2 separate regions of the Homo sapiens genome follow, and region 1 is linked to region 2. The links come from fine-mapping of genetic effects on gene expression. Tissue or cell type: whole blood. Region 2 holds a variant in brackets; the other region holds the start of a gene. All regions are shown on one strand. Distances are from middle to middle.

What was found. PIP is the estimated chance that this variant, and not a neighbour inherited with it, causes the effect.
Region 1: it holds the start of COMMD10, and the variant in region 2 is fine-mapped to the expression of COMMD10 in whole blood (INTERVAL, PIP 0.94).

What each region holds. Positions count from the first base shown.
Region 1 is chr5:116,080,614-116,088,613 of GRCh38, reverse strand. COMMD10 (COMM domain containing 10) reads right to left here and starts at 3,589. Exons shown (of 7, transcript NM_016144.4): 1 at 3,521-3,589; 2 at 1,027-1,117. The coding sequence starts at 3,561. RefSeq lists enhancers at 3,048-3,342, 3,636-3,795.
Region 2 is chr5:116,221,455-116,229,454 of GRCh38, reverse strand. All of the region lies in intron 5 of COMMD10 (COMM domain containing 10), which reads right to left. Among named protein-coding and RNA genes, the nearest start is that of MIR12130, 30 kb to the left of the region's middle. The variant T/AAT (reference allele first, on the strand shown) is at 4,101.

The DNA.
Region 1 (8,000 bases), 140 kb after region 2:
TAACTGCAGCACTTACAAAATGAGGAGAATGTAGACTGCAGCCATACTACAATGGGACTTGTACGCAATGTTAAGGATTTCTAACTTTTCTCCATAGGGCAATGGACAGTCACTGATGGCTTTGAACACTGTAAAAAATATAATACATCTTTGTTTCAGGAAAAAAAATTTAGAAAGTAATTTACATAGTATTATGAAGCAGTAGAAAGCAAGAAGACTATAGGCAGGGAAACCAGCTTGAAGGTAACTATTGTCATCTAAAAAAGAGGTACTAAAGATTTGACCTAGAATTGTGAGAACTTGGATTTGAAAGACACTTCAAAGGGGAAAGGCACAGTTTTGAGGCTGGCTCTTGGCCAAGAAAAACAAGATGACAGAGTAAGAGTCTTGGTTCTCAATGGATGGTGATACATGGCACTGCACAGAGCAGTTAGTGGGTGCTCCATAAATATGAGATGGAATCAAATTTTTATAACCTGATAAAGAAATTAACTAAATTAACTTGGATTGGGCCAGGTAGAGAATTACAAAGCATCCACATGTCCAAAACAACCATATCCTTAAAATAAAAGTGAAAGAGAAACAAAATTAAGTGAAAGATTAAATACCAGTTGATAGAAAATACCACAGAATTATTTTTAAGCGGAAAAATAAAACCAAGACATCAGAATTTTTCCCTAAAGTATATTTTTAGAACTTTAGTCCCAAAATATATACCATAATAAAACAGATCCAAGGTCAAACACATTTGGAAAATGTTACCTGCCATAATCACCCTCGAATACATACCACAAACACTAGCATATAAAATACTCTGAAAAGTTCCATAATTTAAAACATTTAACTTTATTGAAGACAGAGTTTCTCAAACTTCTGACCATGAAACATTACCAAATCTTCCACAGAACCAGTGTCTCTAAGAACATATTGGAGAACACTATGCTTTGCAAAAAGTTCTCCAAATAATCAGACTTTCAATTAAATCAGAAGGAAGATTACAAGGCATGGAAACACACAAATACAAACCTTCAGGTGAAGTTTTTGAAGAATCCGAGTGAGCAACCGTGGAAATCTTCCTGTATCTATTGCATTTATCAGTGACACTGCTTTCTTCATGCTAAACAAAATTATAAAACAGAGTTTTGAAATGAGTTTTCCAAGTTGAACTGCACTTTCTATAGTTGTCTATAAGTTTTCATTCCAACAACTCTGAATGCTATATGGTAAATCTGAGTGAAATAAAAACAGATGACAGCCAGCAAAAAAGGCAGGGCAACGGGTACATTTCCAAAAAGATGCCCCCAAAATTACTTCTGCTGAAAAGGTCCATTTGGCAAATTTTCTCTTTCTTTTGGGCAAACCAAACTACTAGGGAAACCTTGTACTGCGCAGGGAAGAGCCTTAATTTAGTAGAGCGTTTATATAAACACTTAACCCAAAAATGGAACTCTGAAAGGGGTGGGAGGAGAGGAATAGCAATTATGGCAATTACACCAAAAACATAAAAGAATACTGCAAGGCAAATAACTTTTCAAATACTATGTACAAAATCATCTGGGGTCACTAAGCACACAGTTATTTTAAAACCCTGTTTCAACTGTAAAATCAAATTTATTATTACAACAGTAATCAATTTTGAGATAGGGTCTTACTCTGTCACCCAGGCTGGAGTGCAGTGGCACGATCTCAGCTCACTACAGCCTCTGCCTCCTGGGTTCTAAGAATCCTTGTGCCTCAGCCTCCCAAGTAGCTAGAACTACATGCGCGGGCCACAGCGCTGGCTAATTTTTGTATTTTTTGTAGAGACAGAGTTTTGCCCTGTTGCCCAGGCTGGTCTTGAACTCCTGAGCTCAATCAGTCCTGCAGTGGCTCACCCCTATAATCCCAGCACTTTGCAAGGCCAGGGAGGACAGATCACCCGAAGCCAGGAGTTCCAGACCAGCCTAGCCAACATGGTGAAACCCCATCTTTACTAAAAATACAAAAAATTAGCTGGGCGTGGTGGCGGGTGCCTGTAATCCCAGCTACTCAGGAGGCTCAGGGAGGAGAATCGCTTGAACACAGGAGGCGGAGGCTGCAGTGAGCCGAGATGGCGCCATTGCACTCCAGCCTGCGCAACAAGAGGGAAACGCCCTCTCAGGGAAAAAAAAGAGAGAGAGATTAGCCCGCCTCAGCCTCCCAAAGTGCTGGAATTACAGGCATGAGCCACAGCACCTTTCCTGTAATAATCAACTTTAAATGATGTGATGAGAACAATTCTATACTGCACCATATTGGATACAGTTTACTGATGTAGCGGTGTTCCCCAAGACACTGGTATGAGGAAAGAAACTGGCGATCAGAACCAAAGTGAGGCAGGAAAATAGGGTCAGGAGGCTGGGAACATAAAGCTGATTCCCACTTCAGCTATGACAAGAAATGTCCTCTCCATATGGCATAGGCGGAGAAAATGACTTTGTAACTTTACTTCATCCTCTTCATTTACATAGGGAGTACACCAAGTAACCAATGGAATCCTCTAGAGGGTATTTAAATTCCCAAAAATTCTGTAGGGGCCCTTCAGCCCCTATGCTCAAGCAGCTCCCACACTGTGGAGGGTAGTTTCATTTTCAATAAATGTCTTCTTCATTCTTTCCTCGCTTTCTTTGTGCGTCTTCTCCAGTTCTTTGTTCAAGACGCCAAGAACCTGGACACCCTCCACTGGTAACAAAAGGAATCCAGAAAGAAGGAAAAACTTTAAAATAACTCTTTTCTTCTGAAAGATTTCTACCCAATCCAAGCACAAAGAAATTACTTCCGAACACTATTTTGCCTATATACTTCAGTACTTTTTCTGTATCCACACGCTACCTGCACTATTGCTTATTTTTTCACAAATTGAGTCTTTTTTTACTTAAATAATGTTAAAGGGGAGCTTTATATCACTACCATGGACAACCAACTTTATCTACCATAAGTAGAAATTAACTAAAAATCTGTTTAAAATGCAAATAAAAGCAAATGCTACCAAAGCCAGGCTAGATTCTTCTACCAACCAAAAATTCGGTCCCCTATTCGATACTGATTTAAAAGGGGTATTAACACATGTTGGCTATTAAAGACCCTCCAGCAGCAGCGTGAGCCTTTCCCACCAGAGTGTCTGAACCGGAACTGAAATCGGAAACGGAATACCGTTCCACGTGATTCGGCAGCACTGAAGGCAGCACCCGGGAACTTCTGATACCAAACTCCGCGAACAGTGACGCAGACCCCACGCTTGCAGACCACACGCTTCCGTACAGACCTCAGCTGCCAGGCGCACTGTGAGCCCCACAGGTGGACCACCGTGACTGTAGAGGCGCTACACGGCCCCACGCACTCCGCAGACGCAGCGTCGCAACCTCGGCAGCCCACCCCACCCCACCCCACTCAACCGGGCCCGCCGCGGCGCCCAGGCGGCAGGCAGCAAGGACAGCCTTGTGCGAGCCCGATCTGGGCCTTCCTGGGCGCGGCTACCGCAAGAGCTTAACGGATCAGCTACCTGGGGCTCTCCCGTAGGATCAGCGCCGCGGGGACCGCCATCTTCGGCTTTCTCGCACTGCCGCCGTCTGTTAGCTGCGCCGAACCCAGCCAATGGCGGCCGCGGCGGACGGAAAGCCGGAAGGCCCAAGCCGCGCAGGGGCCGTTTTAGGGCTCCGGGTCTCCTGCGACCCGGGCGCCGGGAGACTTGTCCCGCAGTCCTGGAGGGCGGAGAGGGCAGCCCAGTTGCCCTCCCGACACTCCAATCGTGTTGGAGTTAAGTCTGTGCATATATATGTCTTTATATTTATATATTATATATGTATGTACATACCTGGATAGGGGTGTGTGTCTGTATTTAATAGGGCAGGTTTAAGCAAGTCTATGTACAGACCTGTATAGATATATGTGTGTATGTTCGTGCATAAATATATACATTATTATTTTTAATAGGGCAGGTTTAAGCAAGCCCGTGTATACATACTTGGATAAATGGTGTGTGCGTGTGTATATTTTTTTAATAGGGCGGGTTTAAGTGAGCCTGTGTGTACATACTTGGATAGGTGATTTGTGAGTATTTTTTTTTCCAGCGTTTGGGCTACAGAGAGGCAGGCATTTGAGCGAGCTCCCCCGAGCCTGCCCAGGAAGCGGCGCATCACCCCTCAGGAGAGGTGGTGCCTCCAGTTCCACCCTAAGCACTGTGCCGTCAACCCCTCCTGTATCTGCATCTGCAGGGCTTGTAGTATGTACGTTCAATTCCTTCAGCAACGTTCAATGAATGAGTGCCTACTGTGTACCAAGCACTGTTCTAGGCACTGGAGATACAAAAGGCCAAAATTCCTGCCCTCAGGGTTTGCCGGCAGTCTAAATGGACAAGTATTTGTTGCACCCTTCTTTAGAGTCTGACAGTGCAGAGTAGGGGAGATGAATCGCTGCAGTGAGTGATGTCAAAGACCTCACCCAAGACTAGGGAGACACCATGTTTGCATAAATACCTTGGTCTGCCTTTGAGAAAAACATGGAGTGAGTTAAAGGAATTCAGATGTGGGAGCAGTGAAAGGCATCCGAGGTAAGATCAGGAAAAGCTCCCTAGGGCAGGTGGCAAATGCGGTGGGTCTGCAGAGATGTGGAGGGTGAGGCTGTGTGTTTCAGGTCAGTAGAGTAGAAGGGCGGTTTGACGTTTGAAGAACAGGAATTTAGACTAGAAAAAGCCTTTAATGACTGGTTGTGGCATGTGCACTTAATCTGGTGAGAAATGGGTAAGCATTAAATGTTTTTTCTATCCATTAAATGTTTTGAACCAAAGAAATTTTGCAGTGGGAGTTGGATTTTTGAAGGTTGCTGTCAGCAGAATGATGATTGAAATGGAAAGAGGTAAGCAGGAGAGCTACCTGGAAACTACTGCAATAATCTATAGAAAGCAGTAAAATCCTGTGGTACTAAAAAGGCATTGGTGAATTAAAAGATAGTGGATGGATTAGTTACGTTTCAGCAGTAGAATATTCAAGAGCTGCCAAAAAATTGAATTTAATTTTCCTTCCTAATTATGTTTTACTTAAATTATTATTTAAATTAGTTGGAGTTCCTGGAGCAGCCCAAGAACAACCTAACTGAAAGGAGAAACCAGATTGCACATTAAATCTGAATAATCTCCACATGGATAATTGAGTCAATTATACAGTGTGTTGAACACATACAAATACATTTAGTTCCACAACACTCTACAGTCCCCAATGTATGCATATCTGAAAAAGATGTATGTGAATCTACATAAATTATAGGTCTCTGATCCAAACACAGATGACCTCATCTGCAACTTAAAAGGGTCCCAGTTCCCTCATTCTTTGAATCATTTCCCTTTTGTCTTGATTCCTTACCTGAAGTAGAACCACTAACCAACTAAAACTGTTTCAAATCCCTAATGAAGTTCACCCTCTGATTGCCTTAAAAATATATAGCCAGAATTTTGAGCAAAAGAGCATCAAGATGGCTCAAATCCCAAATCCATGTAACCTTGGACAAAGTACTTAACCTCAACAAGTTTCTCATTCCCAATCTGTAATGGGGATGAGAATAATGTCTGCTCCCTTGGATCTTAATGAGATTTAAATAATGTGGTACGTATGTAAAAGAAACATTCTACCCTCCTTAGAAAACAAAACCCAGACCTCTTAGGTGTTCACAAAAGCAAGTCTCCAGTGGACACAGAGGCGACTCACTCTAATGCTCTTCATTTTCAATGATGGGCTGATTACTTCTTATTACCATGTTTCTATAAAGGCGTGATGCTGTGAATAGTTTCACACCTCAAATGAGAACCTCACCCAAGATATTTCTGCATTCTCTGGAATATAGACATCTATGTCCATGAAAAGTCCTTTTAGTTGTCTGCTATTATTGTGTGGGAGTCTTAAGTCTCTTCGTAGGTCTCTAAGAACTTGCTTTAGAATCTGGGTGCTCCTATATTGGGTGCATATATATTTAGGATAGTTAGCTCTTCTTGTTGCATTGATCCCTTTACCATTATGTAATGCCCTTCTTTGTCTTTTTTGATCTTTGTTGGTTTAAAGTCTGTTTTGCTAGAAACTAGGATTGCAACCCCGGCTTCTTTTTGCTTCCCATTTGCTTGGTAAATATTTCTCCATCCCTTTATTTTGAGCCTATGTGTTTCTTTGCACACAAGATGGGTCTCCTGAATACAGCACACCAATGGGTCTTGATTCTTTATCCAATTTGCCAGTCTGTGTATTTTAATTGGCGCATTTAGCCCATTTACGTTTAAGGTTAATATTATGTGTGAATTTGATCCTGTCATATGATACTAGCTGGCTATTTTGCCCATTAGTTGATGTAGTTTCTTCATAGTGTCAATGGTCTTTACATTTTGGTCTGTTTTTGCAATGGCTGGTACTGATTTTTCCTTTCCATATTTAGTGCTTCCTTCAGGAGCTCTTGTAAGGCAGGCTGGTGGTGACAAAATCCCTCAGCATTTGTTTGTCTGTAAAGGATTTTATTTCTCCTTCGCTTATGAAGCTTAGTGTGGCTAGATAAGAAATTCTGGGTTGAAAATTCGTTTCTTTAAGAATGTTGAATATTGGCCCCCACTCTCTTCTGGTTTGTAGGGTTTCTGCAGAGAGATCCGCTGTTAGTCTGATGGGCTTCCCTTTGTGGGTAACCTGACCTTTCTCTCTGGCTGCCCTTAACATTTTTTCCTTCATTTCCACGTTGGTGAATCTGACGATTATGTGTCTTGGGGTTGTTCTTCTCGAGGAGTATCTTTGAGGTGTTCTCTGTATTTCCTGAATTTGAATGTTGGCCTGCCTTGCTAGGTTGGGGAAGTTCTCCTGGATAATATCCTGAAGAGTGTTTTCCAGCTTGGTTACATTCTCCCCATCACTTTCAGGTACACCAATCAAGCATACGTTTGGTCTTTTCACATAGTCCTACATTTCTTGGAGGCTTTTTTCGTTCCTTTTCATTCTTTTTTCTCTAATCTTGTCTTCATGCTTTATTTCATTAAGTTGATCTCCAATCTCTGATATCCTTTCTCCTGCTTGATTGATTCAGCTATTGATACTTGTGTATGCTTCACAAAGTTCTCATGCTGTGTTTTTCAGCTCCATCAGGTCATTTATGTTCTTCTATAAACTGGTTATTCTAGTTGGCAGTTCCTGTAACCTTTTATCAAGGTTCTTAGCTTCCTTGCATTGGGTAGAACATGCTCCTTTAGCTCAGAGGAGTTTGTTATTACCCACCTTCTGAAGCCTACTTCTGTCAATTCATCAAACTCATTCTCCATCCAGTTTTGTTCCCTTGCTGGTGAGGAGTTGTGATCCTTCGGATGAGAAGACGCATTCTGGTTTTTGGAACTTTCAGCCTTTTTGCGCTGGTTTTTTCTTATCTTCGTGGATTTATCTACCTTTGGTCTTTGATGTTGGTGACCTTCTGATGGGATTTTTATGTGGGTGTCCTTTTTGTTGATGTTGATGCTATTGTTTTTTGTTTGTTAGTTTTCCTTCTAACAGTCAGGCCCCTCTTCTGCAGGTCTGCTGGAGTTTTCTGTAGGTCCACTCCAGATGCTGTTTGCCTGGGTATCACCAGCAGAGGCTGCATAACAGCAAAGATTGCTGCCTGCCCCTTCCTCTGGAAGCTTTGTCCCAGAGGGTACCCACCAGATGCCAGCTGGAGCTCTCCTGTATGAGGTGTCTGTCCACCGCTGCTGGGAGGTGTCTCCCAGTCAGGAGGCATGGGGGTCAGGGACCCACTTGAGGAGGCAGTCTGTCCCTTAGCAGAGCTCAAGTGCTGTGCTGGGAGATCCGCTTCTCTCTTCAGAGCCAGCAGGCAGGAATGTTTAAGTCAGCTGAAACTGCACCCACAGCCACCCCTCCCCCAGGTGCTCTGTCCCAGGTAGATGGGGGTTTTATCTATAAGCCCCTGACTGGGGCTGCTGCCTTTCTTTTGGAGATGCCCTGCCCAGGAAGGAGGAATCTAGAGAGGCTGTC
Region 2 (8,000 bases):
GCTGTCAAGTCTTTATGCTTTGTCCTGCTTCTCTGCCTGCCTTGCCAGAAGAAGGTAAATTCGATCTTTTTATTTACTCAATCAATGTTGATCCTGCTAGGATTATCAACAATGGCAATCAATGCCAGTTCAAGTGGTTTTATTACATATGAATACCTGTCCCTAGAGACTGAACCCAAAATGCCTGTATCAGACTAAGCCATTACTGTGTCTGTCTGCCCCAGACTCAAAACAAATCATCAATCTTAGATACAAGTTCAATGCCTCATCTTTCATTCTATGAGTAGGATTAAAAATAGTGCAAAGGGAAATAATAAAAAATAATTATGTTTAAAGTAGATAAATTATAAATGCTCTCTATGTACTCCCTCTTTTATGCCTAAATGTAAAGACGAATCAGCATCTTTCTAATGTGAAACTTCTCTACTCTAAACTGTAATGTCTATAGGCAAATATTTATTTTACACTATTTTACAAGAAGATAAAATAATCTACCCTACCTAATACTATCCTGAGCTGGGAGTCAAAAATATGATTCCCACACTAAGTTTTCAACTACAAGAATATGTCTCAATGCTTATTTATTTCAGTAATTTTTCTTTGCTCATGACAAAAGAAAAAACTGAATTAAGAAACAGTTAAAGTTTGTTTATAATCAGGGCTAAGTTATGACATAAAACTAACAAGGAGAGAGTCACAGTGATCCTAAAAGATCTTATTTTAATAAGCTTGAAAGGAAAAGGATCAGAATCCAGACTTAATTTTCATTTACAATCCTAATATTCATGAAAAAACACAATTTATGCAACCACAAAAGCATTCATTCAAAAATCACAGCAGGACCATATTATTTCTTCAGGTTTAACTGAAACTTTGAAAAGAAAAGCAGCGGTCTATTAAAGGTTCTTTGTCAAAACTATTAATTAAAGCAAATTTTCAAACATTTTTTGAAACCTACAATTCTGGTTATTGAAATAAAAATTACTACATATGAAAGTGATAAATGTGGTACTTTCTTTAATTTGTCTATATTAATTTAATATTAACATATAGCTTGTGTCATTGGGCAAAATCAACAATGTGAATAAAATTTTATTTTTTGAACTTTAAATTTTAAAATTCTAGCCTAGAATACAAATGATGTTAGCTATCAAAATAATGATTTTGTGGCTGACGTTGCACTATATTTCATTTCTTCTCAGTTTTTAAAGGGGAATTAGAAGTTTATTTTTCAACCAAATCACTACAATAACTGTTATTTATTTGGCTTAAAACTCTTACCTGTAAGCAAACTTGAGATATTTTTTCTAATTTAAAGAAAGCAGGAATGAGGCCAAAGTGAATACCTTAAGAATCATAGTAACTGTATTCACATTCACTGCTGCAATGAAAAAAATCTCCTACCTCATAATCCTGTTTCCTATAAAAGATTTTAACCTCCATTGAAATGTATGTGCATTATTCTGATGACATTTTATTCTCTCTTTTGCCTTGCTGACATTTATAACATGACCTAGTTTGGCTAAAATTACCAGGTGAAAAAATTAGCTGCAGTGTGATAAGTGATTTTACCTAGACACGATGTCTGGTTCCCACTGGTATACATACACACTGATGTCCCTGGGTGAGAGAACTAATTCCTTCTACTTGTCTTTTTCATGATTAAAGGCACTGATAGTAACTTTTTAACATTCCTTGCTTCTAAGCTGAGAAACTGAAAAGCTGTGTGAATGCTCGGCATCACCAATCAAGTCAGAAAACACAAGGAGAAAAAACATCCTGAAGCCAATGCCTTGGAAAATGAAGATAATAAGAATAAAATCACCTAAGTGGGCAGCCTTAGTATTTCTGGACATGTTCCATAACCCCCACAGGTAATAGTGGACGGGTTATTACCTGTGGCAGAGGAGACAAAACATAAATGTGGAATTTGAAGCAGAGTACTATTTTGTGGCAGGATGTATAAATTGAACAAACATTTTTTTCAGGTCATATTAAAGATGTAGAGAAAATGGGATTTCAAAGATCTTGTGAAAGACAAAAGGAAATCAGAAGAATATCTAAAATGAACTGATGGAGAATAAAGAGGCTGGATAACCACAATTAAATTACCAGAAAGTTATCAGAATTATTGGTAAGAATAATGTTTGTTCAAAGGAAATCAAGCCCTGTTGAAGGAGAATGAGATGCTCCATTAACGAGAAAACAAGGCCCTTATTTCAAGGGCCTTGAAATGAGAAAAGATCACCATGAAATTTCTGTTAAAAGCGAGCTAAATCTAGTGCTAAAGTAGTGATACTTTTTAAGCGATCAACTTAATTTATGGCAAGGATAGTGAACCTATAGCACAGATAGATACAGACCCTGCTTTCCTGCTTACCACTCTGTAACACCAGAAGGCAAAAGAGGGGGAGAGTGAATCAGATAAACAGTATACAATGGAGCAGTAAACTTATCTACACTTCGGGCCTGGGGCATAAAATAATATGAACTCATATGAAATGAGAGTGAAATGGGAGAACGTCTGAAAAAGAGTGTTTAATATTTGAAACTGAAACTCAGCAATCTGACCATATGTAAAGTCTTTAGTAATTCATACTTCCTGCAACTTTAACAGAAAATAGGAATATCCTTGAAATTCCACATTTATGTTTTGTCCTGTCTCCCAGATGCCAGTCCACTGTTACCTGTGAGGGTTATGGAACATGTCCAGAAATATTAAGGCCATCTACTTAGATGATTTCATTTCTATTATCTTTATTTCCCAAGGTATTGGCTTCAGGAATTTTTTTTTTCCCTTGTGTTACTACAGGGCTTGGTTTTCTAAGTTGATTGGTGCTTTTTAGTCCCAAGTCCCCCAATATTGCTACTAAGTTCAATGCCGAACTATTTTCCAATCAAATGTCTAGATATCTGCAGCAGTGAAAAATAGTGACTCTAAATGCACTACTAAATAGAGACACACATGTAATTAACAGAAACTGAGGAAAGTCCATCAGCTGAAATATAATTTGCTGTTCTCAAAAAAAAAAAAAAAAGGGAAGTACAAAGTGCAAACATGAACTTACAAATTTGGAAGAGTTGAGGTGTAAGTTAATGTCTAAAACATCATTTGAATTTCATTGAATGTTTAGAAGCCCTTGTTTTAAATGTACTATTTGAAATCAATAGGGATGAAGTAGTTTAACTTCTGATCATGCTGAAAAACTGACGTGGTCATACAAAACCCCAGAGATACCAATAATAAGATACTAGATTAAAGCAAACAAACTACTTGAAGATACTTCAAACTTTCAAATGCAGACATAAGGCTGAAGAGAGTTTTATTTTGAAAACTAGAAGGGGTAAGAATTGAGAGTTCATACTGGCTGCAAGGCACTGACCAAACTCCATAGCTACAGCTACAAAAAAGGAGAAGAAAAAAATGGCATCGCACTGGCTAAAGATGCTAGAACTTGGAGTGGAGAGCTGGAAAAAGAGCTGAAAATTTAAAGGAAAAATGTTAGCACCAAGCTAATCACAGAAGGCACGAGACTCAAATTCAGAGCACAAGCTACACAAATTCCTAGCTGACAACAAAATTTACACATGAGCAAGGGAGGCCTATGAAGCCTAGTGAAAAAGCAGGAAGAGAAAAAAAAAAAAACAAGATTTTAGAATCTGTGATTCTTTTATTAACTGAGAACATTTTTCAATCATTTACAGCTTGAGTGGTAGAAAGATGAATCTAGACAGGCTTGATGTGTCAGAGTATAGGGCCCAAAGCTGGCATGGCTACTGTCAATTAGGAGGAAATTCTGAGACACAAAGAAACAACAAAGAAGATGAGCATCTGCCAAAATCTTTGGGCTACCACACTGTGCATATACAAGGGGGACCTATAGGTGTTCAGGCTAACAAAGCAGCAGAGGAAAGGTGTAAGCTGAATACCTCACAGGAGACAGTTTGTGGTTTCAACCCAAGGAAGTTAATTGCCTACTAGAACAAAAAACCAAGGTCCTCAAAAGAATATGACAGAACCCAGAGTCATTTCACCATATGTTTCCCAATGTCTAGTTTTCAACCAGAAATTTCTACATATGCAAAAAAAAAAAAAAAAA[T/AAT]CCCCAAAAAAACAAACAGGAAAGTCTTCAGGAAATTACTTAAGAAAAAATACACTCAATACAAATGACTCTAACTGGGCTCAGACATTGAATTTAGCAAGTAAAGTAATTCAAAAAAGCTATTATAAATATATTCAAAGAACTGAAGAAAAATATGCTATCAGTGAGTGAACACAGAATAAATCTCAAGAGAAAAAAAGAAACAACAAAAACAGAAAACTCTAGATCTAAAAAGTATAATAAGTGAAATAAAATATTCACCAAATGGTCACAGCAACAAATTGGAAATGGCAAAAGAATCAGTACAACTGCATTATGGGTTAGAAGCCCCATAAACTAAAGATTAGCCTACAGATTGTTAAAGGATATTATATAAAATGTTAAAGTAACATTCTTATCCATCTTTTATTTAAATGTAAAAGAAAAGATTTAAACAATATTGTAATGTTTTATTCACTACAAGCCTAAATGTTATCACAGAACCATGAACTATCAAATACTCATCAGCATTTAAAGTCAAAATAAAATGTAATGCCAACAAAATTTAGTATTAATTCAATCAACAAATACTTCATCAACAATATCCCGGGTGATACGGTTTGAATGTTTTGTCCCCTCCAAACCTCATGTTGAAATAGGATGTCTAATGCTGGAGGTGGGCCTAGAGGGAGGTGTTTGGGGCTTGGGGGAAGATCCCTCATGAATGGCTTGGTGCTGTCCTCACAATAAATGAGTTCTCGCTCTGAGTTCATATGAGATCTGGTTGTTTAAAAGAGTGCGGCACCGCGGCCCCGGACCCTTGTTCCCTCCTCTCACCATGTGATATGCCAACTCCCCTTTTGCCTTCCACCATGATTGTAAGCTTCCTGAGGCCTTACCAGAAGCAGATGAGAGCACTACACTTCCTGTACAGTCTGCAGAAACATGAGCCAAAATAAATATCATTCCTTTGTAAATTACCCAGTCTCAGATATTCCTTTATACCAACAAAAATGGATTAATATACTAGGCAATGGCTGGGAACTGTAGAGACAGTAAGTAAACACAGAGATGGCTCCTATCTACATAGAGTTTCCTAATTCTAGTGAACAGGAATAAACGAATTCCCAACTGAAGTCCTCATATAGACTCATGATTTATTTGAGTAGCAAGATTTATGAACTATTTCTCATTGAAAAGATACATTGGTTCAATTTTTTAAAAGGATTAAGAGTTAAACTACCAACCCCAGAATCCTTAGAACCTGGATTAAGAAACAGAAAGATCACCGTTAAATGAATAGTCCAAGAGATGGAAGTGGAAAATGGAAGCTTTGTTCTTAAAAAACGTAAAAGAGACAAACAGTAAAACCATTTCCATGGTCTTATAATGCTGCTCCAAACACATGCATTACTTTTAAAAAAATTTATAAAATGAATTCAGCACATGGAAACATAAAAATACTGTTAAGCAGTTCAGCAAAGAATACCAAATGGAATAACCTTCATTCTTAAGGCTATGTTGAGTGCCTTATTTTAATCAGGTAATTTCAAGTGTTGCCTTTGAACCATTCCAGTCTGGCTTCACCTCTTCTCACTGCCTCCACTCCTACGATCATGAACTTCTTTCAGGGTATCTTACAATACATTATAGTCGCTTCAGAGTTTTTGAACATACTATTCCTACACTCCAATAACATTCTCTCCAAACCCCTTCTGTCCCTCTCTGACTCAACCTTACGGTCTCACCTTATAGTCTGGCACAAATTTTTCCCGAGCTTCTCTGGATTAGGTTAAATCTCCCTGGACTATGTTCCAAAAGCACCATGAGCTTTTTGCTTTCTTAGAACTTCTAAAATTTCTAATTAGAAATTTAATGTTTCATTGACCAGGATGTGTGGAAATATATTCCCAGAGTCTGAGACAGTTTCTAGTACCTAATTTGGAGCTGAGTAAATATTTGTTAAATAAACATTAAAATAAAATATAGATAGCCATATCCTTACTATTTTTTTTTGTTCCACATATTACATTGTAATAAGAACTTTTTTTCTCTGGTGTATACATTTAACTTATCTTATACTTCTCAATACTAAATAAAAATCCTCTGACTTTTCTAAATTAGTTCCTAGATTTGATTTCCTTACATTTTATCCTATCTCCTTTTTTTCAAAAAAAAATCCAATATAGAAAATATCTGACTTCTGTTAAGACTAATATTTATAATTTATAGGTGACAGCAAAATATAGTGAAAAATAGCAACTTCAAAGAAATAAGAACATAGACAAGTAAAATTAAAATAACACAATCTATGACATATTTTATATACTCCAATCAAGAGCAATCTGAAGATATCAACTAAAATAACCATAGTATTAAAAAGGGCGGCTGAGCGCAGTGGCTCACACTTGTAATCCCAGCACTTTGGAGGCTGAGGTGGGTGGATCACAAGGTCAGGTGTTCAAGACAAGCCTGATCAACATGGTGAAACCCTGTCCCTACCAAAAATACAAAAAATTAGCCAGGCGTGGTGGCATGTAACTGTAGTCCCAGCTACTTGGGAGGCTGAGGCAGGAGAATCGCTTAAACCTGGGAGGCAGAGGTTGCAGTGAGCCGAGATGGCACCACTGCATTCCAGCCTGGGCAACAGAGCAAGACTCCCTCTCAAAAAATAATAAACAAATAAATAAATAGGCTAAATGTTGTTTTCTTTTGAATTCTAGCTCTTTTGTGAACAAAAGGCCAAAATGAAAAACTGAGATAATTTCTTGTAAGATTATCTTTCTGTCCAGCCTCATGTTCCTGAAAAGAACATTAAATTCCCTCATAAAACATAGTGTCAACTTTACAAATACAAGTAGACTTTATTCTACTTCTAAAATCATATTCCCACTGAACTAGATGAGTCAATGAGTCAATTTAATATAATTTGAATATAAGACTTTGATACCCTAATGGGTACAGAAACTATAATTGTTGACCAGAATAATTCTAATTCATACTAAAAAGATTCCATGTTTTTACCAAAAGAGATTTCAGGATGAGATTTCCAAATTAAAATATTAAAATTTAATTCCAATAGTCAAAACTAAGTTTTGTTAAGGTCCATACAGACTGCCTTACTATTTATTTTCTTCAACTCTTGAGAATGTTTTCATGAGAATAGAGTAACAGACTTAAATTAGATTTGACTATCACTGAAGAGAGTAAGAAGTTACAATTTCATCTCAATTATGCTCTGTGTCCTTCCCTAACTTCTTAACATCCCAGATGGCATTAACATTCTTTTTCCTCCTATGACCACATCTCTATTTGGAACATATACACTTATCAGTATTATCTGCTGCACCAAGGCTTACCCACATCCACTCCTGGTAACTAAAGAAGATGCGGACATTGACAGATTCAGTTCATCTTTTCACAACCTGCTAAAACAGGCTTGATTTTTTTCTGGTTGAACTGCCTGCCTATCTACCTCCCTCCCTTCCTATCTACCTGTCTATGTTATGTGTTCTCTGGTAAGAAAAAATGTGGGAAAATAAGCAAAGGACTCCAAAAATCCATCTTTACTTTGCTCTTGGCTTCCTACTCATTTAAATAAAGAATGGTGGCTAGAACAACTAAAGCATAATGTTGAAAAACAGAAGCTATCCTGCACCTTTCAAAACGTAATAATGCTACATTTCATCTGTGCATAGCCCACAGTGAGGAGATGCAGGTATCTACACTTTTCCAAAGTCAAACCAAATAATTACTACTAAGACCTAAACCTAAGACCTTTTCTTCACAGCATTTCTAAGAGATCTTGAAAACACAGGCTCTCACCAGGGTTCTGTAACTAACTAGCAATGTAACCATGAGTAACTACATAGCCAAGAGTATCCTCAGTAATAAGATTAAGGGACTGGTGTTTAGATTCAA